Linked DNA regions of Homo sapiens: regions 1, 2, 4 and 5 are each linked to region 3. Evidence: fine-mapped expression QTL. A gene starts in region 3. Each other region holds a variant in brackets. All regions are shown on one strand. Distances are from middle to middle. Region 1 overlaps ARHGEF7 (Rho guanine nucleotide exchange factor 7). Region 2 overlaps ARHGEF7 (Rho guanine nucleotide exchange factor 7). Region 3 holds the start of ARHGEF7 (Rho guanine nucleotide exchange factor 7). Region 4 overlaps ARHGEF7 (Rho guanine nucleotide exchange factor 7). Region 5 overlaps ARHGEF7 (Rho guanine nucleotide exchange factor 7).

What was found. PIP is the estimated chance that this variant, and not a neighbour inherited with it, causes the effect. A credible set is the group of variants that fine-mapping cannot tell apart.
Region 1: its variant is the best candidate, but not a certain one, in a credible set for the expression of ARHGEF7 in monocytes after LPS (Fairfax 2014, PIP 0.56).
Region 2: its variant is the best candidate, but not a certain one, in a credible set for the expression of ARHGEF7 in caudate (GTEx, PIP 0.62).
Region 4: its variant is the best candidate, but not a certain one, in a credible set for the expression of ARHGEF7 in caudate (GTEx, PIP 0.54).
Region 5: its variant is the best candidate, but not a certain one, in a credible set for the expression of ARHGEF7 in whole blood (TOPMed, PIP 0.51).

Annotation. Positions count from the first base shown.
Region 1 is chr13:111,201,868-111,206,968 of GRCh38, forward strand. ARHGEF7 (Rho guanine nucleotide exchange factor 7) reads left to right here. Exons shown (of 22, transcript NM_001354046.2): 3 at 3,422-3,506. Among named protein-coding and RNA genes, the nearest start is that of ARHGEF7-AS1, 56 kb to the left of the region's middle. RefSeq lists enhancers at 829-878, 3,997-4,498, 4,499-4,998. The variant A/G (reference allele first, on the strand shown) is at 2,855.
Region 2 is chr13:111,283,119-111,288,219 of GRCh38, forward strand. ARHGEF7 (Rho guanine nucleotide exchange factor 7) reads left to right here. Exons shown (of 22, transcript NM_001354046.2): 16 at 21-245; 17 at 3,029-3,122. Among named protein-coding and RNA genes, the nearest start is that of TEX29, 35 kb to the right of the region's middle. The variant C/T (reference allele first, on the strand shown) is at 2,187.
Region 3 is chr13:111,113,142-111,118,242 of GRCh38, forward strand. ARHGEF7 (Rho guanine nucleotide exchange factor 7) reads left to right here and starts at 2,169. Exons shown (of 22, transcript NM_001354046.2): 1 at 2,169-2,550. The coding sequence starts at 2,386. It overlaps ARHGEF7-AS2 (ARHGEF7 antisense RNA 2), which reads right to left and starts at 2,537. Exons shown (of 2, transcript NR_046667.1): 1 at 2,406-2,537; 2 at 671-1,777. RefSeq lists a silencer at 2,042-2,131.
Region 4 is chr13:111,289,919-111,295,019 of GRCh38, forward strand. ARHGEF7 (Rho guanine nucleotide exchange factor 7) reads left to right here. Exons shown (of 22, transcript NM_001354046.2): 19 at 2,200-2,376. Among named protein-coding and RNA genes, the nearest start is that of TEX29, 28 kb to the right of the region's middle. The variant A/G (reference allele first, on the strand shown) is at 2,601.
Region 5 is chr13:111,302,791-111,307,891 of GRCh38, forward strand. ARHGEF7 (Rho guanine nucleotide exchange factor 7) reads left to right here. Exons shown (of 22, transcript NM_001354046.2): 22 at 201-2,942. The coding sequence ends at 323. Among named protein-coding and RNA genes, the nearest start is that of TEX29, 15 kb to the right of the region's middle. RefSeq lists enhancers at 1,464-1,533, 1,614-1,673. The variant A/G (reference allele first, on the strand shown) is at 2,868.

The DNA.
Region 1 (5,101 bases), 89 kb after region 3:
CCCTCCCCGCCACTTTTAAGAAGGTATTTTTCTATCCTTGTTTGAATACTCTGGGCTTCTTTTATCCCTGATTTGGTATTGTATTTGATTATGTAGTTTCTATTGAGAGCAAAATACCAAAAATAAGCTAAGGAATTTTAATGTTAGTTTTCTGGTGGAAAACTGGTAGGATGATTTCATTTTGGGAGTATCGGATCATTCTATTGCACATTTAATTCACTTAAATGTAAAAGTAAGGGTGAGTGTTTGAAATACGCTTTTTCAAATGGATAGATCCTAAAGCGTATTATGGTGCGAAGTGTGTCTGTGCAGCCACCCTTGTCCCCAGCATGGTGCCTGTGTGGGGTAGTGCAGGTGGCAGGAAGTGTGCCTGTGCTGGCATTGAGGCTTCAGCTGGGCAGGATTCCTAATGACCTTCCTTACCTCACCAGGAGCGCTTCTCACGCTTGGCTGTGTGTTGGAGTCACTTGGAGAGGGTTGGCATTTTGATTTGAGTCTCTGGACTCCAGAACACTGCTGGAGTATCCTGCCCTTTTACAGCCCCCCAGGAGGTCTTAACATGTAGCTCCTGCTGAGAATTGCTGCTCCTGAGGCTGAGGCTTCCAAAAGGAGGCCTGGAGACAATGGAATATGGTTTGTACTTCCTTCCCTCCTGCTGCTCCTTGCCATTGCCAAGAGTGGAAATACTGCTAAAGCACCCAGCAAGTCATGGTGGGGAATGAATGAATCCCGTCTAAGACACTTGTTTTAATAACCCTAGGGAACAATTTAGTGTGCTAAATGTCATGGTAATTCTTACATACACACTGATTTACTTTTTGCAGAGAGATTTCTATAAAAGTTTTGAGACTTCCCTATTATTCCCATAGTACAAAATTTCTCTGTACTCAGATTTTTCTGTTTCTGTTTTTTGTTGAATAGATTTCTATTTTAGGAAATAGTCTGTTATCTTTCTCTAGAGAAGCACTTCAATCGAAACATTTTGTTGGCTGAGAATGTGCATTTTCCCCCTCTCAGGGGTAAGGATTTGCCTCATCTCATTGTCTAGCTTCCTGTTGAGAAGTGTGGTGTGTGTATTCACTTAAACTCTGATGTCATATTGAAGCCCATTGGTGGGCAGTTTCAGCCAATCAGATGCTTCCTGGGTATCCAAGTAAGAAAGATATATAGTTCTGGAATAACAGGAAACTTCACATTTTTCACATCCTGTTATTCTGGGTTTTGTGACTTGCTGCCTTGCCACTATGAAGGTTAGTAGAAATTTATGTATGTATTTCTTTTTGTAGTATACAAAATTGACAAAATAAAAAATGACTTGAATTTTCAGAGCACTAAGATTAGATCTGTAGAGCTGAAAGACATTCAGATCTCCTATTTAAAAATGTTATGATGAAGAGAAATTTTATGTTTTGCATATAAGGAAGCTGAGGCCTATTTAATTCCTTTTAAAAAATGCAGCTTAACCCGTATTTGTTATAGGTGGTTATGTCAGCCTAGATGCTGCTCTCATTTGAGTTGGGATTTCTTCTTAAATAATAAATATTACAACAAATGTATTCTGTATGAAAGATGATTCTAAAGACTATCTGTTCTAAGGACTGTTTTTTAAAGGAAGGATTTAGCTTCATGAAATCAGTTATATTTTGTGCCTTTTGTTAGAAATGGCATCGGTAAGCACATAGAATGCTTAGATGTGTTCACAGCTTTCCTTTTACGTTTTGTGGTTCCATCTGATATTTCCTTGTGAACTTTAAGAAAGTGACCTCTGGTTTTCAGCTCCTTTCTTGACTCTTTTAGTGATTTGGTGGGTTTTTCTCTTGAGGTAGTTTTTCAAAGTCTGGTTCTTCTTTATTTATGTTTAAACATCTCATGACTATTTTTACTTATTTGGAAAATTATAGACAGAAGGCCTTTAGCTGCAGATGAATTTTGAATAATACAGCAGGACTTTTTCACATTTGGTGTCACTTTTCTTAGCTTCTCTTGGCGTGAGCTTCATTACAGCAGCATGCGGTGCCTGCAGGGTGGGTGGCTGGTTGGATGCTGGTGCACGTCTCCATTCGGATGCCTTTTCACTGTGCACCGGCCCCTGTGCTGGGTGTTGGGAGATGTACAATCTGCCACTGCAGATTTTTAGTCTAGGGAGGCCTGTAGACATCCACCATCAAACTATCATGACACGTGTTCTGGGGGAGCCTGGCTGGGGACCTGACCGGGTGTGGTGGGGGCAGCCAGGCTGTCAAGGCAGGGCTGTGTCAGGAAGCAAGATGAATAAGGATTAGCCAGGAAAGGGAAGGGACCGAAGGCAGGAAGAGGAAGAAGTGGGGCTTCTGGCAGGGTCTGCTAGAGGTGTGGGGAGAGGGCAGGACTGACAGGAGGAGACGACAGCCCTGGAGAGAAGGTGGGGCCCTTGTCCACTGATGCTTATTTCCGGTAATCTCAGTTAGAACATATGGCAACAGGATACACGTTTTGGTTTTTAAATGTATCTTTCTGTTATTGGCACCTCTGAAAGAATTTTTTTCTTAATTTTTCTGGAACATAGTTGTGGACGATTTGACTGTTTATCTTTGCTTGAGGTTATTTGGTGATCAGAAGCCATATGTAGTCTTTGGGCAGTATCTGAGATGAGAGCTCTGTTTGTTTTGACATGGCTGTGTGTGTGCACACGCGTTCTAGACACTAGTTGCCACATACCTAGGCAAACCAATGTGCTTTACCTTTCCAAGCTCCAGGATGGTGGTGGGAAGTGCCTGCCAGTGGCAATGTGACCAGCTCCATCGTGGTCCCAGGGCTCTAGATAGCCCTGGACTGGAGGGGATGCGGTTGTGGGCTTGCCTGGTTCTGGCCTCAG[A/G]GCTCTGAGGGTGGTGGTCTCTTGTCCCTGCCCCTTTCCTATCTGGGATCTGCTTCTCCTGTCTGTCCTCCTTTTACCCTCACATCCACTCTGCTCTCTGATGTCCGCATTTTCTTTTGCTGCTGTTAGCTTTGGAATCGACTGTCATTTTCCCTTATTTTCTGTGGCTAGGAAAGAACATCTGTAGCACGCCTTGCCTGGGGCCTCTGTGTTAATCTAAGGAGAGGAGGATTGCGCAAGCACCGTGCTTGCTTGCTGAATGCCAGCAGCCCACCCCCCCACCCCGCCCCGCCCCCGTGAATGAGCTCACACTCCAGAGGGGCAGGGGCGGGTGTTGGGTAGGGAATTGGCCTAATGCCGAGGGGGGACCCTGCACCTAAGTAGGAGAATTTTGATTGGGTTCTTACCTCAGGACTGAGAGACTGAGCGTGCTGGTCTCCCTGTCGCAGGTTGTGCGGTCTCCTTAGGATTTCAGGCTGAGCATCGTCGCGTTGCTGGGAGAACTTAGTTCATCCTGCACCCAACATAAGACTCTACTAATTTTGCTTGTTTAATTTTTCCTTTCAGACGTTTGATGCAAATGATTTGTATCAGGGGCAGAATTTTAACAAGGTCCTCAGTTCCTTAGTGACTCTAAATAAAGTAACAGCAGGTAAGACTCTTTTTTATTGAACTCGAGGGGGTGGGAAGACATACGGGCTGACACCTTTGGTTTTCTTGTTTTACCAAAGCCAGGGGAGCATTACTGAATTTAAAAAATAAGCTTTTGTTGCATTACGTTTTGATTGTTCCTTTTGCTGTGATATTTTATTTGCCTTGTTAGAATAGAATCTTCTTTAAATGTTCTGGTATATATCAGGTGTTTTCCTTTCTGTGGGTGGAGAGATTTCTCACCTGAACGTATAGCAGGAGAAAAGTGTCTAGTTCTTATGGGAAGGCTCATGGGCTGTGTTGGAGCTAGAAGCACCTTTCTCTCAGTTTTTACTGAGTGTATGCTGGTTAAAATTTGTATCTAGTGGGCAGAAGTTTTGAGCTGTGACCATGATAAGGGAGTGGCTCGTGGATTGGCCTGTAAAGTCCACACTACCTGTCCAGGGCTCCTGAGGGCTGTGGCACCCAGGTACATGGTGTGTGTGGTCCTAGCCCCCATTAGTACTGAAGTGGAGAGGAGGTTTTGGGGACATGGTGTGCCCCTCTCATGGGCCACAGCGAAGACAGGAGTTGTTCAGACAGGTCCTCTGAGGGAAGGTGCATGTTGTCCATGATGCCAAGGTCCCCGGAGGAAATGCTCCATGAGCCCTGAGGAGCTCTTTCTTGGATTTCTGTGTGGCTCAAAAGGAAGGAACTTTTTAGTTGCTTTTTTGGTCTTATTAGAGTAATTTTTTTTTCCTATTTACCTTCACGGATGTTAAATATCAGGTTTGTGGGGGAAAGTGCCGTGTCCTTTTCAAACAGAAACCTCCTGAGTTGATTTTGTCGGGGTCGCTTCTCAGCTTCGTCTGGCCCTTCAGAGGGGGGGGTGTACTTGCCTCACTGCACATTGAGGAGAGACGGGGGTTATGCATGCTTTGGGGCTGCAGTTCCTGGCTCCCGGAGGCTTCATCGGTGGTGCAGGGACTGTCCTTGGTGCTGCCTCCCAGCGCATGTGTGCTCTGACTGCTGTCTGGAAGCTGATGCTGCTGCTGCTGATGCTGATGCCCCGGCGAGAGGCACTGGCCCCCATCCCTGGGAGCAGGGGCAGACCCCAGGCAGAGGTGTGGCTGTGGCTGCGTGTTCACAGCTTGACTTCTGAGGTTTAAAGGACTGTTCAGATGAAAGCATCGAGGAAACAAAAATTTAAATGGCAGGATTATGAAGATGGATGTAACTAATGAAAATTGTCACATTATTTAATGCCTTCTCTGTCTCTACAATCTAAAAATGATCCTTTTAATATGAACAAACAATAAGAAAATCACAGCCGGGTGTGGTGGCTCATGCCTGTAATCCCAGCACTTTGGGAGGCCGAGGCGGGCGGATCACGAGGTCAGGAGATCGAGACCATCCTGGCTAACACGGTGAAACCCCGTCTCAACTAAAAATACAAAAAAATTAGCCAGGCGTGGTGGCGGGCACCTGTAGTCCCAGCTACTCGGGAGGCTGAGGCAGGAGAATGGCGTGAACCCGGGAGGCGGAGCTTGCAGTGAGCCGAGATCGCGCCACTGCACTCCAGCCTGGGCGACAGAGCGAGACTCCATCTAAAAAAAA
Region 2 (5,101 bases), 170 kb after region 3:
CCGCTCTGTGCCCTTGGCAGCTCCCCTCCCACCCGGTCACTCCGTCCAGCAAGCACGCAGACAGCAAGCCCGCGCCGCTGACGCCCGCCTACCACACGCTGCCCCACCCCTCCCACCACGGCACCCCGCACACCACCATCAACTGGGGACCCCTGGAGCCTCCGAAAACACCCAAGCCCTGGAGCCTGAGCTGCCTGCGGCCCGCGCCTCCCCTCCGGCCCTCAGCTGCTCTCTGCTACAAGGAGGTGAGGTCCCTTGACCACTCAAACAGCCAGATGACGGTGAGCATGCCTCGGGCCCTGGGTGTGCCCACGTGCTGGGCCTTCTGTGTACAGCAAAATGCACCCTAACTCCTAGAGAACTGAGAAGGGGGGGTCTGCCTTGGTTCTCTGGTTATCTGCTCTGCTGCTGAGAGGCCCGTGGTAACCTGTGTGGGAAGGCGATGTGCAGGGTCCCCCTCCTTTCTGCCATGCACAGGGGGGCCTTTACTGCACTTGCCGGAGGAGTGTGCCGCCAGGGGCCAGGAGCTGGAAAGGCGCTGAGCCCAGGTGGCTTTCACTCCCTGTGTGTGAGGCCATCGCTCAGCATCTGCACGCTGTCTGCTGCGTCTAACGACCCCTCCTCTAGGTTGGGGATCCTGTCCAGGAGCCCTGCATTTTGTCATCCAGAAGCCATTTGAGATGAAGAGAACATTTACTAATACAAATGAAAAACAATCACTTAGGCGGTTTCCCCCTTTGATGCATAAGAAATCATGATGCGGTCTTTGCTTGTCTCTGTTCTCATCCGGCATTTTTATATTTGCTAGGCGCAAATAAAGTACGATTCCAATGAATAAATAGAAGTGTTAACACTTCCTTACACTTTTACCTAAACCAGCTTGGATGAGGAAAGGAAGTGTCTTTAGAAATCTGTTCTGAGAAGTACTTTCACCTGAGGAAGCTGATAATTGAGATGAGAGTTGTTTTCATAAGCAGTTGAGCGTGCATGGTGGTGAGGTATGAGGAGTGGCGGTGAGAGTGTGGGTATCGTGCGCGTCAGTGTGAGCAGCAGTGCCCGTTGGTGGGGTGTGAGTGAGCGTGAGGATGGTGACACGCTCTTGCCTGGCATTGTGCCTCTGTGTCTGGTCAAGGCCACATTTGCCAAGGGAACTGGAGCAGACTTTTTCTACATTCTTGCCGGCAGCCCTGGGGGTTTTAAGGCCCACAGGAAAGTACTGTATGAGAAATTAGGATCTGTGCTTTTCATTTTTTGTTCTGAGTCTTTGTTTTTATGATATCTTTCAGGTAATCATGTGTGCAAGTCAGAATTTCCATTTTCTATCATGGGAAGTTACTTGAAGAATGTTGCTGTTCCTTATTGTATACTTTAGTGTGCACAGTCTAAAGAAAAAGTGAGCTACTACAAGAACTGGTGGAGACTGAATTACTAGGGAAGAAAATTGGGATAAAACTGTTGGGCAAAGAAGTAGAAAGGGCAACGGAAGGGGTATTGAAGTGAAGATAAACAATTTTTTTTGATAAGTCTGGCTGCATTTGCTTTGCCAACTCCACACTGGGAGAGAAGGGCTCACACCGAGCAGCTGCCGTCCAGTGTTGCTGAGCACCGCCCAGCAGTAGCGTGGAGAGTGATCTTGCAGGGTGTGAGAAGAGGACATGGAGGCTCGTGGAGGCCGCTCTGCAGCCCGCTCTGCCTGGCTCTGGCTCAGGTGTGCTGTGTGCTCTGTGACCCTCTGCGCCTGCAGGTGCCCTCGGAGCACGTGAGGGGCGGGCGTTGGCTCTTCAAGGCTCTCCATCTCAATTTGCTTCGAATTAGGGAAGCCATGAGCACATGTGTATAAATGTGTCTTCTGGAACAGATTGCTGCTGCATTTCTAAGAGCTTTCCAATTTTTTATAGAAATACTTTTGTTTAACTTTTTGAAGGCTATTTTAGATTCAGAGTTTGTTACGTGGCTGTATTGGGTGATGCTGGGGTTTGGGCTTCTGGGGTACCTATTACCCAAATAGGAAACATTGTACCCAATGGGTAGCTTTTCAAAACTCACCCCCATCACCTTCCGCCTTTTGGAGTCCCCAGGGTCTGTCATTTCCATGGTCATGTCCATGTGTACCCATTGTTTAGCTCCCAAGAAAAGACTTTTAAAGATAATTTTAAAAACCAAGCTTTGTTTCCTCTGTTTCCAGC[C/T]TGGTTCATTCCATAGCACATCTCATCTTCTGAGTCTTGGTCTCGCGTTTAGCATTCGTGATGGTTTATGTCGTTGGGGTGATGCAGAAACCAGCCTTTTTTTGATATCGGTATTTAACACGTGCTTGACAGTTGACACCTTACCTGCTCTGTTGGGACTTGCTTTGCTCACTTTGTTTTTTGCCGTCGTCTTCTGTGCTTGTTTGAAAAGCTGTTTGAAGAGGTAAGGGGTGGGCCATTCCGTTGTGAACACTCTGAGCTGGTGTGCATGTGGCCCCTGCACAGCAGCCCTGGCCGAGCTTGGCTGTGCTCCTGGCACTCAGAGTCAGGTAGCTGAGCACTCGCTCCCTTTTCTTCTCCCTGAAACTTCAAATATTTTCTTAAAGCAATTATTTTTTACTTATCTGTCATTTAATGACAACCTTAGTTTCCTCCTCTCTTTCCAGTTAGCTGTGCCAGGGGATAGGTCTGTCCTAGGGAGCAGCTGCCCCCTCCTCTCCTCCTCCCTCAGGAGCGTGCAGGATGTCTGTGCACACCAGCGCCAGCCTGCCTCCTGGTGACACCTCTCATCACAGGACTAACAGGACCCAAATGACACGAGGGGTTTTATTAGAATTAAAAAAAAAAAATTAGCCAATGACTAATACTGAAAATGCCCTATTGATTTTTAAAAATTAACGTTCAGAAGCTGGTAAAGAAAAATCAAAGTAGGAAAAGGCGAGAAGCTCTTATCAGTGGCTATAATAATTTGGGGTTTTATACCTTTACAGCAGCCTTTCTGATATGCCAGTGAAAATGATTGGCTTTAGAGTATGTTAGCATTTTCTTTTGTCTTTCCCTAGGATCTTAGTAAGAGCCCTAAGACCATGAAAAAGCTGCTGCCCAAGCGCAAACCTGAACGGAAGCCTTCAGATGAGGAGTTCGCGTCCCGGAAAAGTGAGTACCTGCGGTCCGTGTGGTGGAGGACGTGGCCTCCTGGTCACGTAGGCCATGGCTTTCCTGGGATAGAGGGAGGCTTGGTGGCTTTCTGAAGACTCCAAACAAAAGTAAGGTCTGCCCCTTGAGGCAGTGATAGGAATAAGCCACGTAACATTTACCCAAGCAAGCAGGAGAAGCGCCTTTGTGTCAGTGGTGAAGCCTCCGTGCCAGTCCCGGCACCACTGCCTTATAGCCCCTTCCTCATCCAGGAGCTGGGGCCGGACCTGGAGGGCTCTCCTGCTCTTCTGGTTCTCCCTCTCGCCTATAAGATATTCCACCCACACTTCCTGAAGTGCCAGCATCTCCCAAAGCACCCTGTGTCTGTTAGAAGCGTGACCTGCTGTGTTCTCCTGTGGGTAGCACCCACCCGTGCTGTTCTCTTGCTGGTCTCTCTGCTGTTGGACCTGTCCTGTCTGCTCCTCAGGCCTAGGGGTCTGACTCAGCTCTGGGTTCCTATGTGGCCTCGCAGCAAGCACCTGGCACCTGTTAGGTGCTCGGTAGATAGCTTTTGAATAAGTGGAGCTCTTTTCAGAAGTAAGTGATTTTCCTGGGGGTGACTGCTGGGAAGGGGTGCACGTGAACAGATTGCTGTGGACTGATGGGTGCAGCCCAGGGAGAGAGAGCCAGCTCTGGGAAAGTTGCAGGATCTGTCCTACAGGGCTCTGCCCTGCCCCGCCCCTGTGTCTGAGCTCAGCCTTTGTTGGTCCTTTGCCTTCACTGCTCACTTCCTCCAGCCTCAGGAGGAGGCCCAGCAGCCGTCCCACACGCTCACTGTGCCATGCCACTGCTGGCCTCCCCTCACCGCCACCTTATCATCAATCAGCCCAGTGAGGTGACCGTGCTGGGGTGTTCATTCTTTTCTTGTCCTTGTCACCTGATGTCCATGGCAGTATAAGTCACCATCCTGACTGTCCTTCTCCTTAGGTAGTCCAGGTCCCTGACCACCAGGGCCCCTGATGAGATGGTGAGGCCCTGGGGTCTAGTGATTGAAGTGGAGCTGGTGCTGGATGCCTGCTCTGTTGCTTACTGGCTGTGCCGGGGCTTCTCTCTGAGAGGGCTGTTCTGTGGGCCACTTCCTTCAGCAGATCCAGGGGCAGCACTGAGCTGGGCCGGGGGCCGGCTGCAGCTGAGACCATCGTTCATGGACGCGTGCTTCATCAGCACCTTCGTGGGCTGGGTGGGAAGGATACAGTGTGGCCGAAAGAGATCCCTGTTCTCATAGAGCCTATGTTTTAGTAGGAGGATACAGACAAGAAACAAAACAAGTGAACAATGTGTGGGCCATGGAGTGCTGCAGAGACCCAGTGGGGAGGACAGGTGGGAGATTCGGTGCCAGGGCGCCATTTGAGCAGCCTCCTGGGGCTGAGGAAGCAGGCCAAGCAGGTGTCTGGGGAGGAGCTCTCCAGGCCTGGTTGCAGAGACCCTGAGCAGGAACCCCAGGCTGTGCCCAAGGGACAGTGCGCTGTGTGGGCCCAAGCTCCCCTGGCAGAGCGGGAGGTAGCACAGCACCCTGAGCAGCAGGCAGCCAGAGTCCGGTTCCATAGACAAGATGATGGGCCCGGGTTTTCACAGGACCACGGGCTGCCGTGTGGGGAACAGACAGGCACGGATGGCCACGTCGACACTGAGAGTTGTCGGCCTTTTGTTTTCATCTGGCTGGCGTGTGGAAACACGAAAATGTTTTAATTTTCATTTCTTGTTTTAGCGAGATTGGACATTTTTTCTTAGAACTCTTCTTGTTTTGTGACTTCCTTATTCCTATCTCCTGCCCTTTTTTCAGTTTGAGAGTGGGGATACTAATTTTCTTACGGGTTGGTAGGATAATCATTATAAAGTTAGGATGTTCGCCGTTTTTCCAAATGTGTTGCAAATATTTTTATTTGCATTTATTTTATTTTATTTTGAATATAACTCATGAATTTTGTAGAAAACAGTTA
Region 3 (5,101 bases):
ACTCCTAACAGTGATGTGGAAGGTGCCTACCAGGCACTAGCAAGCAGCCAAGCTGGGTGTGAGGCTGACATTCTCTCATTAGAAACGAAGGAAGCGAAGCCACAGGCTTGCGTGGAAAGCCATTCTCCACCTCTTGAGGCAAGTCCAGAGGAGAGCCACAGAAAGGGCTAAACTTCCCCTTAGACAATAGTCTTAACTCGAGCTAACCCAATAGCCCAAAAGTGATGGGCACCAGATTGCACTCCGCGTGGCCTCTGTAATAGGAACCTGGAAAAGTGCTAAGGAAAGTTTAACCAAAATGCCCACTTTGGATACTAAAACAACTCAATTAAGCACCTAAAAATATCTAGCTTTGAGCAATGTTACTTTCTAAAATCCCTTCCAAGTAAACTCTTTTTCTGAAATTAATAAATACCCAACATAAAAGAACGCAACTAGTAACCATAAAGTGTTTAAAAGTCTGGGCTTCTCCCCACCAAGAAAAGACGAGTTGTAATACCTGGACTGTGGGTCTCCAGTCCGACAAGAATTGGCTCTCTGCTTCACTGGTCTCGTAAGGTCACTCCCTAGAATTGGCTTTCTATAGGACCATTTAATTGAGTCTATTTGAATCTTACTCAAGTCTACCACCTTATAAGTATCAAACCGAATTTAGTAGGATTCGAAATGGTAAGGACTGCATTAAATTATTTCTCTAATTCAGCAGTAAGGAAAGTGAACAGAAGTCTCGGTGTACAACCACGCCCCGGGTTGACATCTTTCCTTCCACGAAGACACTGGGTACAAGCCTTGATGTAGCTGTTAATTGCCCTCCTGTTTCCTAGAAAGCTTATAGGGCAGCAGTAGGAAACGGGTTAGGTATGCCTTTCCTGGTAGGAGCCGAGCTTTGGGTCTTATCTCTGCCACTTGTTCGGCATCTGATCAGTAAAAGGGGACCATGATGGGAGGCGAGGCAGTAGACAGCACTTTGTGACGGTTCCTAACCAGTCGCTGTTATCACTGAGCACATTGTCCTCGTAATCCAGAATTCATACTGCCATTTGAATATTTTTTGTATTTGCAAAGAAAATTTTAACCACTTAACTCAAGGCTAGAAATAAAAGCAATTAGTGATTGCAAGAGAAATCCACCGGCAGAAGGCAGGGGGAGACGACTTAAGCCTCTGATTATTTTTGGAAGCTTTATATGCTTTCTAGCCTTTGTCATTGAATGGATTAATGTATGTGCCTGGCATAGACTAAGTGCTTTGCTTGTTAAACTGCCCGCGGGTCATAGCGAGCAAACTGGGGGAGCGCCCAGGGACAGTGGATGGAGTGAGTGGAGACTCGTGTCCTTTTAAGAAGAGGCTCCATTTCTTCCTCGCATGTCAATGTGTGCGTGTCATCAGTTGTTCGAGGAAGCTCGCGCATGACGCGACACTTGCCGTCTGGGCTCTCCAGGTTCGGCCTGCTGCTTTCACAGCCCAGATCTTCGGCGTCCCCGAGACGCAGCCAGGCGCCCGGCCCGGCCCGGCCCGGCCCTCTGCACAGCCCCACTTCAGGCCACGCCGTTTCCTTGACCTTCCCCCGGCAGGGTCTGAAGCGTCACCGTCCGTCTAGAGCAGAGTCGCGCAGGCCCCTGCCCTGCCGGTGAGGTCGGCGCCGCGCTCCGGAGAGTCGGTTCCTCCCGATTCAGACCCATATGGCTTCAGATGGAACCATCATTTCTGTTCCGTCATGACCGGCTTGCAAGGTAGCAAAGCGAAACAAACGTCTCGTTTTCAGCCTGTCCCCGCCACCTTGAAATAAAACCGGCAAAAATAAAAAGAGCATTCTGGGAAGTACTTCATCATTTCAACGCTCACGAATTCAAAACATAAACAAAGGCTTCCGAGTGCCCCGGCCAGGGGCGCGGGGCGCACGGCGGGCCCGGGGCAGGTAAGCGCAGGTGCGCGCCCGCCCCCACCCCCGGCTCCCTCCCCATCCGCTCCCCGCTCCCCTTCCCCTTTCCCTTCCCCGCCCGCTCCCAGCCGCCGCCGCCGCCCCGCGCACGGCCTGGAGCGGAGGCTGCGCAGGGCGCGGGGCGGCGCGGGCCGGGCGCGGGCCGGGCGGACGGCCGCGTCTTTCTTCTCCTGGCGGTGATGTCATTGGGCGACGGCGGCCGAGGCCGGGGGGCGGCGGCGGGCGCCCGCAGGTTCCCGAGCCGCTCCTGAGAAGGCGCCTGACAGCGGGCCGGGGCGCACGGAGAAGCGGGCCGGGCCGGACCTGCTGGGCCGCGCCGAGCCAATCGCCGGCGCCGGCCGCTCGATGGGCGAGGCGGCGGCGGCGGCGGCGGGGGCCGCGGGCCGGGCCGCCGCTCCGAGGTGAAGGCGCGCGCCCCTCCCCGCCTGCCTCCCGGGCCGCAGCGATGAATTCCGCCGAGCAAACCGTTACGTGGCTCATCACTCTGGGGGTGCTGGAGTCGCCCAAAAAAACCATCTCGGACCCGGAGGGCTTTCTGCAGGCGTCGCTGAAGGATGGGGTGGTCCTCTGCAGGCTGCTGGAGCGCCTGCTCCCCGGGACCATCGAGAAAGTAAGTCCCGGCCCGCGCCCCCGCCCGCGCCCCCCGGTCCGGCCCGCTGCGGCCCGGGATGCGCGCGGAGCACCTGAGGCCGGCCGCGCTCGGGAAACCCGTGCGCCCTCCTTTGTGCGCGGAGCGGCGGCGCGGCCGGCGCCAGGACCGTGGCGGGAGCTCGGGGGGCGCCATTGTGTGCGGGGCAGGGGGAGGGGGCCGGGGAGCGGGGTCGGGGGGAGGGGCGGCGCGGGCGGCGGGGGTCCCCGGGAAGGAGAGTGCACCGCAGCGAGGAGACGGGGCTTCTGCGCCGCCCGAACGCTAAGTTGCCCCTCCGCGTGGGGGGCCGGCCCCGCTCCCTGGCAGCAGCCGCATCGGAAACCGCGTTCCGACGCGGTGCGGCTCACTCCGCTGGCTTTGTGTGGACAGTTCTTGCCGGTGGCGTTGCGTGAGTTTCGCCTCCCAGGTTAATTGACCGGTTGCTCTGTATTTTTAAAGAGGCACGCATCTGTAGCTGAGGGCTGCGCTGTGAAACGATCTACTACTTTCCCCTCGAGAAAATTCCCCACCTATCCGAGCCGAGAGGACGGCAGACACAGGGTCTAAGTCCTGGCACTCTTCAAGGCTTGTTAAAATTCTAGATTTCGTTCTCAGGTCCCTCCCTCGTTCTGAACAGAACCTTTAGTCCTGCAGGCACTGCTTCTCCCTTCCGGCTGGTGGTTCCCAGGCTGGAGCGTGTGAACCCTGACCCGAATCTCTGGAAGTGATTAAAGTTTGTTTTCATCGCCCACAAGCCGGCCAGCAGGGCCGAGGAGGCAGGAGAGTTTCTAAAAACGATGTCTCCCTGTAGCTCAAAATACTAAAATCTTATTCCCAGGGTGTTTCTTCGGGGGGTGGGGTGGGGGTGGGGGTGGCCAATATATAGCGTTAAGATCAACAGTTATTTAAAAGGTGTTAAATATAGAAATTGAAGTGTACCATAATTAGGAAGAAGGATTTCAGTTTTTAAGTGGGGTGTATTGGCCCCCATACAGGATGACAACAACTTGTAAATAAAATGCCACGTAAGTGACTTGAAAAAGTAAAATGTTTAATTTTTTTCATTCACATGTACATATTCTCTTGCTACATTTTAAATGAGGTCAGAAAACATTTTATTTAATATGAATTTGGCTTGCATTCCACTTTTAGCTATTTTTCTTACTTGGAACATCTTTATGAAAACAGAATCTGCATATTAGAGTGAATGGCTGCCTGCCTGTCCATGAAATAAAAATGTTCCTTAAAAATGAACCTGATGTCACAGTGAAATTATGATTTAAGACAGGAGGACTGAGGAGCAGGAGCTGACTTTCAAGGCATTCAAAATACTTTGCTGTTTGGATACTGGTACCTCTGGTAATGAAAGACAGATGTTGAAAAGTGTTGAAATGCATGCAAAGTTCACCAAAATAGGCTTAAATAAAATTCTGTTCCATCCCTAAGAGCAAAGCTTTAAGAAGTGTCATATGCTGTATTGATAAAAACATGTCGCCATCAAAGAATATGTTGTTTGGCATATTAACTGTATTAATATTGATTGGCCGACTTCAATAATCATTTTCTTTTAAATTATAGAAAGATTTTCCTAGAAAACCGTAGCGTTCATTTCATCTCTAAAACAACAAAGAGAAGAACGAATAAAATGTTGAGCTTGCAGAAGCCAAGTTGAAACAACTCAACATATTCTAAAACTACAGTCATCTGGAAATTTCTTAGGTCAGAGCTGTTTTTGATTCCCCCTGAGCTCCAGTTGGTTTGTGTTAAACTGACTCTGTCACAATGAAAGTTTAATGTGAAGGCAGCGTATTGTAGACACAGTTACTGGTTCTCTGGAGTTCAAAGGTAGGTTTTTGGAGTAAAATATTAGCCGTTTTCTGCCTCTGAGATCCCTGTGTTTCAGAAGTTTTGTGAGCTTTTTCCATTTGCTAGGCAGAGTTATCTGGGTTTCTTTCTTTCTTTTCTTTTTCTCTTTCTTTCTTTCTCTCTCTCTCTCTGTCTCTCTCTCTCTTTCTTTCTCCTTCCTTCCTTCCTTCGAGATGGGTTCTTGCTATGTTGGCCAGGCTGGTCTTGAACTCCGGGCCTCAAGGGATTGTCCCATCTAGGCCTCCCAAAGTGCTGGGATTACAGGCGTGAGCCACCACGCCCAGCCAGTTATCTGGGTTTTTGGTGTTTTCATGCTTACCAGATAATCTATGCCACAAAGCACACATGCTGAATAACTTTTACTTAAATGTGGGAATGTGAGTCTGAGGATGTTTTTTCCTTAAAAAGAAGCATTTGGAAACTTAACTGAATGTTCATGTGGACATGACAGGGGCTTCGCTTGACCTCTGCTGCAGGAGTGCCCTGACAGCCAGTGAGCGGAGGGCAAGTGGCCTGCAGCCTTCGCCTCTGCAGGCTCACAACCTGGCATGGGCCATGAGGCTGGGGATGAGGGCAGAACTAAAACGTGGCTGGGTGCCTCGGGCTTCCCATATGTCTTTTATTAAGAAACCATGCCCTAATGTGTTTCTTCCATTACGCTCATTTG
Region 4 (5,101 bases), 180 kb after region 3:
ATTTGTAGTGACTGCTTATCAGAATAGGAGAGAAATAGAGAAACGGAAAGGCCTGGGTAACCCATCAGAAGGTGGAATAAATATGTGTATAATCACACAATAACGTCTAAGTACAAATTGTTGTGATGAAAGGTACTACATTTTTATAATTTGATATTGATCATGTTTTAAGTAATAGGCTGTAAAATGTGGCCATAAATTTTTGGATTTTGAATTTGAGATTTTTTTGTCATCTCAATTTCAGTTACTTGAAATAAAATTTTAACCAAGTAGTCTTAGATGAACAGACCAGGTTCAGTTGGCCACCCAACCGTGTCTGTGAGTTCTGCATTTGTGAATTCAACCAACTGCAGATAACTACTCAGAAAAAAGAAACAATAAAAAGTAACAATATAACAGTAAAAAATAATACAAATAAAAAATAATTATACTTATAACAGCTATTTATATGGCATTTACATTGTATTAGGTACTATAATTTAGAAATGACTCAAAGTATATGGGAGGTTGTGTGTAGGTACAATGCAAACACCATGCCATCTTATATCAGGGACTGGAGCGTCTGAGGATTTTGGTGTCCAAGGGGAGTCCTGGAACCAATCCCCTGTGGGTGAGGGCCGACTGAGGGCTGAGCTTTGTATGTGTCATAGTGCCCACCACATTTCTTCATGACCAGGGTCCTGTGATACGCTGCGGCTTCACGGCCCCTGGCTGCCTAAGGGGAATGGCCCACAATTCCTTTTCTTTTCTTGTCACATTGCCTGTATTCTGTACTTCCATTTCTCCTGTGCAAGAAAAGCATTGAACGATACATTGATTTTTGTTTTTAATTCATATTATGGGCAAACCACTCTGGGGCTTCAGGGAGCTTGCAGTCATATATGCCCTTTAAACCTAACACTCAAAACTAGGGAGTAATAGGAGAAATTGCTCGCTTGTGCTGGAAAGGTGGTATACTTACTCAAGGTGTCTGGAAATGGGATCATAGTGAAAGCAGCTCTTTTTACATTAAATGCTTAGTAAAACGGGTTTTAGAAGGATAATATATTTTACCTAAAATGCAGCTCTGTTCAATACACACATTTGGATGCCAAGAAGATTTTGTAAACCAAACTTCCTTGGTATTGATTTCTAACTCCAGGAAGTAACGGCCCTCACAGTCTGTTATGATGTAGTTCTCGCAGTCTGAGAACAGAGGTCAATTTGATAGAAGCAGGAGTAGGGAGGGGCCAGGGCTACTGTGATTTGCCTTCACCTAGCGAGGGGCATCCCCGCCTCTGCATGGAGGGAGACCCTGGCGGCCCAGCCTGCCTCTCAGCCCAGGTGCCTGGCCATGGGCAGTGCTCATAGTTGCCAGCCACTCGTGATTATTTCTCTCCTGACATGTTGTGCCACTTCCTCTGTCATTCTCCTTTTAACACTGGGACGTTGCCAGTTCATGTCTCTCTTCCTGACAGCAGAGGGTCTGCATTGGGGTGGCCGGTGTTGCCAGCAGACCCAGCTTCCCACTGCACCCTGCCTGCGGGCTAAGCTCCAGCGCGCCCTGGGAGCAGGGGGTGGGTTCTGGGGCTGTGGGCCCTGCCCAATCCTTTTCTGCCCTCTGAGTTCTCACAGTGGTTATTGATTGATCAGGTAAGTCCAGACCCACTCTCAGGTTTATGGTCTTGGCAAAGAGCCAGCTGAAAAAGCCCGTCAGAATTCCTTTGAAATTATTTTGCATTTGATACATCTGTTTATTGATAGGAAACAATTTTTAATTAGCCACATAAATGGCACCTTTCCCAAATGATGTCCTAAATGAGACTATTTGTTAATTGAATGTGGAATAGAATTGATTAATTGCCACATGTCTATAGAATAATCTTTTGGACATGGGTGTGATTTGTAAAAGATTTCTTAAATGAGGGCTTTAGAGCAATATCTTTTTTTAAAAAAGCAGTTTGAAACATTGTATATTAGGTTTAATTAGATAATAATCGATCTAGTTTTATTCTAAGGGTTTTGCTAAGTTCGTTATTGTGAAACCCAGCCGTATATAAGGAAAAATATGCATTGTTGCCAATTTTTAACACTATTTTCTCTTTTCCTTCTCTTCCCATCACCTTTTGCTTTTGTTCCATGTTTTGGTTGTGGCTCTTCCTGTCGTTCTCCTCCTCACCCCCTGCCTGTCGCGCCTGTCCCTCCGCCCGCCCGTCTTAGCATGGCAAGGCACTGACCTGATGCATAATCACGTCTTGGCTGATGATGACCAACCAAGCCTAGACTCCCTGGGGCGTCGCAGTAGCCTTTCTCGTTTGGAGCCTTCAGACCTCTCGGAAGACTCTGACTATGACAGTATATGGACAGCCCATAGTTACAGAATGGGTTCTACATCTCGTAAGAGCTGTTGCTCATATATCTCTCACCAGAACTAATGCACTTCTGAGCTTTTCTTAACAAATGCTTGTTGTATCGCAGCCTGCTTTTCTTAGATGTTTTCTTGCTGTTCCTTGTCTCTTTTATGTGATATTTTAACAACTTTTGAGAGTGTTCCTGATATTTCCCATTGTACTTTGTGGAGGCTTAACTGCCGATGCGAGTATACATTCGAATGACTGACT[A/G]TTGGAGGGAGGTGGTGTGTTCACGTGAGCCTACATCCGAGGGTGCTCTTCGTAAGGGGTAGTTGTTGTTTTATAGCTCCAAATGGTTTTTTTATTCTCAGTGTAGCAACTGTTTGATTTCTTTCTGGATACAGCTGTATGAACACTTTTCTATTTTATACTGAAATCACACAGGTTTGTGATCTAAGTGCCAGAACCATGGAGGAGACTCTGGCCTTATCTGTAGGGACCTAAATTTTTTAAGTGCTATGAACACTGATCAAGTAGTTGTGGAGAGATGAGAAGAATATATGCAGCAAAGGTGCTGTGAGCCCAGTTCCAACGGCTGTGTTCTGGTAATCGTGCAGAACAGCATGTGGGCTCTGGGCCTTGGCAGGTGCACAGACGGGCGGGCGTCACGTGTGTTCAGAGCTTGTCTCCACCTCACGGCTCTGTGCTCTTCTGTGTGCTGCGTTGTGGCCGTGAAGTGGGAGCTCTCCTTTCCAAAGGCAGAGCTTACTGTCATGGCTCAGATGTTCACTCGCATCTTCACCCCAAACTTCCCTGAATTGCAGTGATTTCTGTTATAAGGCACATAGCAAGCCTGTACCACTCTACAGTAAAATCTCTACACTAACAGTTTAAAGCCCGAAAGCTGAAGCATTCAGCCTCTGCAAGTGTAGACTACTGGACTGTAGTAGAGGCATTTGGAATACTTACAAAGTCAAGTGCTGTGGCTTCAGTTCCCCCGGCTCCCCACCCCTGACATCCATACTTATGTTGTCTGGAAGAGCCATGGACACATCATTATTTTCAGCAACCAGCTGCAGTGAAACTCCATTTACAGCAACCCCATAGTATAAAACCACAATGCCTCATTGTAATGGGATATTGAAGTTCATTGAAGAATTACTAGGTTGCCATGTGGCTCACTTATTTAAAAAAAAAAAAAAAAAACTCACCCGTTTTCCTGGGATTTGTTGTAAGGAGTTTTCACTGGCCTCACTCAGACCAATTTCTGCTTCAAAAAGCACTGAATGTGACCTGTTGCATTCAGTTGTAGCATCAAATCCACACCTAGTCATTGCTTGAGGGGCCAAATTGTGTTCTGTCCCATGCACGCTCTATTTGGTGTTAAAATGGAACCTTACGGTTGTGTTTTAAGTATTCATTGAAACCAGCTTCAGAAAACAAGATGCCATAGTAAATTGAGAATAACATTTTTTCCTTCTTCAGGGTGGCTGTAATTCCAGGTGGCCGTGATTTCTTTCTTCCCCACTGCCCACTCCTTCGCCAAACCCACGTATTCAGTGTTCTGATCTTGTTTGTGCAGAGTGAACTCTGATGCAGTATCAGTCTTGTCCTGGGAGCCGGGTCCTGCTGCTCACAAGCCCAGAGCTGCCAGGGAGCTCCTGGCAGTAGCACGTTGTTTAGAAAGTTGGGTGGCTTCATTCAGCATGGAACAAGCTAATGGCACAGGAGACATCAGGGCAGCTGTTAATTCCAAATATTTGTTCCCAAGTAGCTACTGAACTGCTCACACCATTGGAAGATTTTGTATTTTCATACCAATTAGTAAAAATAAGAACATTGAGGAGCAGTCAGAGCCCAGTGTTAATCTCCGGCAGAGATGGGGTTTATGTATGTTCAGCCAGATAGTAAATGGGATTTTTGGAGAAATAAGATAACTACAAAGTTTCTATACTTACTATAAGTGGATTTAGAAGCGATTTTGGTTTTGTATTACATACGGTAGTCCTCTGCGTCAGGGAGCACTTTTTTGTTTGCCTCGAGACTACTCATTAGCGCACTGGCTAAGCTGCCTTTGCCTTCTCGTAGGCGTGGGTTGCCTGTGTCATGGGCTGTGTAGACCACAACACTCAAACACAGTTGCTGCACTTGGATTTTCCTTTAATACCAAGTATCATTTGGTTATCTTACTGGGACATTTTCATTGATATTCTATACACCAAAGTTTTGACGGTTTACCATCATTCCATTTTGTACCAGTTAAAGGCATTTTGATGATGCTTTTTCTTGATGCTAAGATCACTGCAGAAGAATAACCTGACCTTTTCTTTGCATTTGTTTTGAATGTCTAACACCATTAGCTTTTGTGATCTGGTTAAGAAGTATTAGTGCCACAAGCCTGAAAAGACAGTTCTCCTGTGGCAGTGGCGATGTGGCATCCAGAGGGCCATTGTTTCTACTTTTGTGGGACTTCAGTCATGCTGATAATAGAATCTTCTGTTCATACAATTCTGTAATATTTATTTGTACAGTTAGTATTCTAATGAAAGGATGAAGAGTCTGAACTAGAAGGTAGGTTTAAGCCATCACCAGGCCTTTGCAAATGGCCTAAATGGTGTTCCCTTTGAAATAACGCTTGCCACAAGTATATAATAAGCTATATTAATTGTGTTTTGCATAAAATTGCCAAAACACAGTAATGTGTATATAGTGGTATAAGATCTTGAAAAAAATCTCTATAATTGTGCTCTTTATCTGTGAATGGGAAAAGC
Region 5 (5,101 bases), 190 kb after region 3:
AGCAGCACAGTCAGGAGCACCGCTGCCACCCTGTCCAGGTGTTTGACCTTCGTGGATCCCCACGACCTCAGAGCCCATAGGCAGCTCACGTGGGATTTCATGAATCGAGGCCTTAGCTCCTCAAGGATACACATTTGGGGAAAGGAAGCCCTACGCGATGCCAAAGATAGTGAACACCCTGTGGTCTGCTTAATTTACAGGACAACAAAAAGATGAAGAAATCTCTAGAGGAAGAACAGAGAGCCCGCAAAGACCTGGAGAAGCTGGTGAGGAAAGTCCTGAAGAACATGAATGATCCTGCCTGGGATGAGACCAATCTATAAGGGATGTCCTCAGTTCTTTCTGTTGAAGACCAGTTCTGAGGTGAAGCTGGGCACCCCTGACCCAAGTCGGGGTGCACTCAGGACCACAGGGCAGGGCTGGGTGGGGCGCCACCTTGCTCTCTGTATATAGAAAAGCTGGAGCTTATTCTGCGAATGGAGACGATCAAACCATGACTGATGAATCCAGACAGGAGGGATTGACTCTGAGGACCTGAGCTACATCAATCCACTCTGTGAACATCTCAGTTACCTCATTCTGCAATAAGTTCAGTGACTGACTAAAAGTCTTGTTTTTCCAGACTTTGAATTGAATATATAAATATTATATATACATGTTTCTTGTAAATATCCCATTTTGAATGCATACCTGTGGTGGTTCTGTCCGGGCTAATCCCCATGCTAGAATGTCCTTTCCAGCTACGTGAATAAGAAGTCCCATGCCCGCATCCACCGGAAGCAGAAGCCTGGTGGATGCCTGGTTCGTTCCGCAGCACCAGGGCCTCCACCGTGCTGTGGCAGCACCCCCCATGTCGGTATTTCTAAATAACCTTATTTATACCTGCAGAGATACACTTCAGTCCCATTCAGAAGTCTTCTCTTAAAGCAGCATTACAGTCCCAGACCTGCGGGTTTCTGAGGGCAACTTGCTGGCTGACAGACTCAGTCTTGACCTCAAGGAAGGCCCATACGGCACTGCCGCATCCACCTAGAGGTGTTTGCTCTTGTCCGCTGTCTGAGTACTGTGATTCTCAGATGAGTTTGCTGCGTTTTGGGAGGACACAGACGGTTCTGTATAGGCTAGTTCAGTAACAACAAAATACACTGTTTTGTCTTCCCTCAAAGAGAGATCTTACTAGAACCTGTAAATAGAATGTATTATTTATTATAAGTCACTGCAGCTGATGAAAACAGATGGAGGCCATGCTGCAGGCTGATACTGATGGGTGGAGTTTTGTCATCAGGCCAGCCTCATCCCGAGGTCTCCTCCACCATTGGCCGTAGCCAGCAGGCTTCAGTGCTCACCGAAAGTAAAATCCCCTCCTTCAGCAAGAATAAAGCAATATACACCTTAGGTTCCACTAAGTAACATAGGCATAAGCAGGGAACGTTTCCCCCACTGTGTTCCAGTGCAGAGGAGACGAAGCCTGTCCTCACCGCGGCTCGCTGGGCCCAGGCTGGCTCTGGAAAGCCTGTGCGGTCCTGGGCAGGAAGCCCGGCCCGTGGAGCAGGTTTTCGTTCTGCTTCAGCAATAAATAAGGGTGACCACAGGGACTTTGCTTTTGGTTTCCTTTCCTGTGAAAAGGTTGGTTTTAAAGTGAGATACACTTTTCCGTAGAACAAGTGTTCTATCTTTAAAAACCCAAATTGCAGCACCGTGGATTACTGGTCTCAGAACAACTCATTGCGCATCAGATTTGACTCTCTGATTTTCTGTCTATTGGCCAAATTGCCCTTTAACTGCACCTGAATCCTTTGTGTACTGATGCCTTTGAGCTGGGCACCTTGGGAGAGTGTTGTGTTGCTGTTTACGGTTCTTCCTTGCCCTTGCTAATTACAGTCTCTGGTGCCCAGCAAGCCCCTTTGGCTTCCTTCCGTGACTGGTCACGTTGTCTGCCTGGGCTCAGCGTGGACCTGCCCCATGCTGCAGAACCTGGCCTCACCTGGACTTTTCACTAGAATTGCCAGCTTCCTCAACTTAGCAGATCATTCACTCATGCGGGCACAAGCAAAGATCAACACTTTCTTTTTTGGTAAGCTTGAGTTTTACAAGTTATTTTTTGGTGATGCGTAAGACATTGCAGTGGGAAACCATTCAACTTGAGTTTATTGGAGTTTGCTGTTGTAGCAGGTTTTAACTCAGGAACAACTCTTGTCTGATCTCTCCGCCCCTCTGCCGGGAGGCGACATTAACTGTCCTCTCGGAGCCGGTAGCGTTGCTGTCCGAGTCCCCAGGACGGATCTCCTGCAGACCTGCCTTAATGCTCAGATCGAAGTATTTCACAAGAATACTTGTGTTTTTAACAGCCCTTCCCCTGGACGGTGCGGCCATGAGGGCCTCATGTTACGGCATTGCCTTTTCTTTCTGTGGATCCAGTATCTTCCTCGGCTTTTTAGGGAGCAGGAAAAATGCGTCTGAGAGCAACTCTTTTTAAAAACCTGCCCTGTTGTATATAACTGTGTCTGTTTCACCGTGTGACCTCCCAAGGGGGTGGGAACTTGATATAAACGTTTAAAGGGGCCACGATTTGCCCGAGGGTTACTCCTTTGCTCTCACCTTGTATGGATGAGGAGATGAAGCCATTTCTTATCCTGTAGATGTGAAGCACTTTCAGTTTTCAGCGATGTTGGAATGTAGCATCAGAAGCTCGTTCCTTCACACTCAGTGGCGTCTGTGCTTGTCCACATGCGCTGGGCGTCTGGGACCTTGAATGCCTGCCCTGGTTGTGTGGACTCCTTAATGCCAATCATTTCTTCACTTCTCTGGGACACCCAGGGCGCCTGTTGACAAGTGTGGAGAAACTCCTAATTTAAATGTCACAGACA[A/G]TGTCCTAGTGTTGACTACTACAATGTTGATGCTACACTGTTGTAATTATTAAACTGATTATTTTTCTTATGTCACAGAATGTGTCGCTTCGTCTTCTTTGATGTGTTTTCTGTGTGCTTGTTAGCTTTACAGTTTCTTTGGGCTGTTTTAGATTTGAAAATTCTGTCTGTCTTTGATACTGAAGATAACATGTTTCCTTTAAAGTCTAGAGTTTGAGAAAATTTGAAGATTTTTTTTTAAAAGACAAGGAAAGAACACTGGAAGTCTTAGGAACAAAAGCTGAAGTAACAGGTCACGCTGGTAGGCACAGCCCCCAGGTCCTCACCCATGCCTGGAGGAATGACCTGCATTCTGGAAGGCGCTCAGGACACCGTTTTGTGGGATCAAGTAAGCGAAACTTTCTTGAAGATATCTGTGGGGTCCCTTTTAGGAGCTGTCATAAGACAAAAGGAAATTGCTCGTGTGTGTCCCTGTGTGGCGGTGGTGCAAACGAGGGTGTCTTCCGGAAGGGTGGCCGGGAGGACCAAGCGGGGTCTCCTGTCCATGGTCCGTGTACCTGGCTCAGGTGTGTCTACAGCTCCGCTGCATGTCATTTCAGCCAGCCAGAGGTCAGGTAGCCACACGCAGTGCCCAGCCCACTGGCTTATTGTAGGAGCTCAAAAGAAGTCAGGATCTACACTTTCAAGGACTTTAGTCATTTCAGGTTAAAACAAGTAGGCGTTCAAAAACCCATTTCTGTTGATTTGCATTGTGACAAGAACGTGCGATGCATAAGACACCTAATGTGAATTGTTCATCTTACTGGTGGAGTAGGTAGGCATTTGTACTTGATACCTCACCAGTAATTAAAAACTAGGATGTACCTGAGCCATGTATACCGTTTTTTAACTGTACACTTTTTAAAGGTATACTGGGCCATGTATACTTCATTTTCTTGCAGAACTATTTATATTTTTCCCATAAGCAGGTATTATTTTCCTAATTAAAAACTAGCATGTACCAGAGTTTTTAATTGTTAAAATAATACCTGTTGATACGGAAAATAGAAACAGTATACCAGGATACAAAGTAAAAAGCATGTATTCTGCCTCCCAGCGCCCTGACCCTGTTCCCCAGAAGTAGCTCCTGTTCTGCGTTTAGGTTCTTCTGTTCATTCTTCTGAGCAAATGCCAGTGTGTGGTGTCTGTGTTTTAACTTTTTTCCCAGCAAGTGAGATTGCATTAAGTATATTCTTTCCTAAGTTGCCTCTTTGAACCTTATCTTTCCATATGGGTATATGTAGTTTGAACCATTCATCATTTTTGACCACTGCATAAATATTCCCCTGATTGAGTGCCCTGCAGTTTGTCACCTATGAGTGGATATTTGGGAGGGGGCAGTCGCTATTGCAGAAATGCTCTACTGAATATCCTTATGTATACAGCTGTGCAACTGTGCACATACAGCTAAATGATTAACTTCTGGAAACGTTTGTGCATTTTTAACTTTGATAGAATTTGCCATATTTTTACAAGGTGTTTTGGAAATGACAGCCTTGGCAATTGTACAGTTCTAGTTTCTCAAAGAAGGAATGGGGCCATGATGGCATGGGAAGCATGCTCTTCGTTGTGATGCTTTCCCATGGAAGCCGTTGACTCCGAAACATGCTCTTCGTTGTGATGCTTTCCCATGGAAGCCATTGATTCCAAAACATGCTCTTCATTGTGATGCTTTCCCACGGAAGCCATTGATTCCAAAACATGCTCTTCATTGTGATGCTTTCCCATGGAAGCTGTTGACTCTGAAACATGCTCTTCATTGTGATGCTTTCCCATGGAAGCAGTGGACTCTGAAACATGCTCTTCATTGTGATGCTTTCCCATGGAAGCCATTGATTCCAAAACATGGTCTTCATTGTGATGCTTTCCCATGGAAGCCATTGATTCCAAAACATGCTCTTCATTGTGATGCTTTCCCATGGAAGCCATTGATTCCAAAACATGCTCTTCATTGTGATGCTTTCCCATGGAAGCCGTTGACTCTGAAACATGCTCTTCATTGTGATGCTTTCCCATGGAAGCCATTGATTCCGAAACATGCTCTTCATTGTGATGCTTTCCCATGGAAGCCATTGATTCCGAAACATGCTCTTCATTGCGATGCTTTCCCATGGAAGCCGTTGACTCCGAAACATGCTCTTCATTGTGATGCTTTCCCATGGAAGCCGTTGACTCCGAAACATGCTCTTCATTGT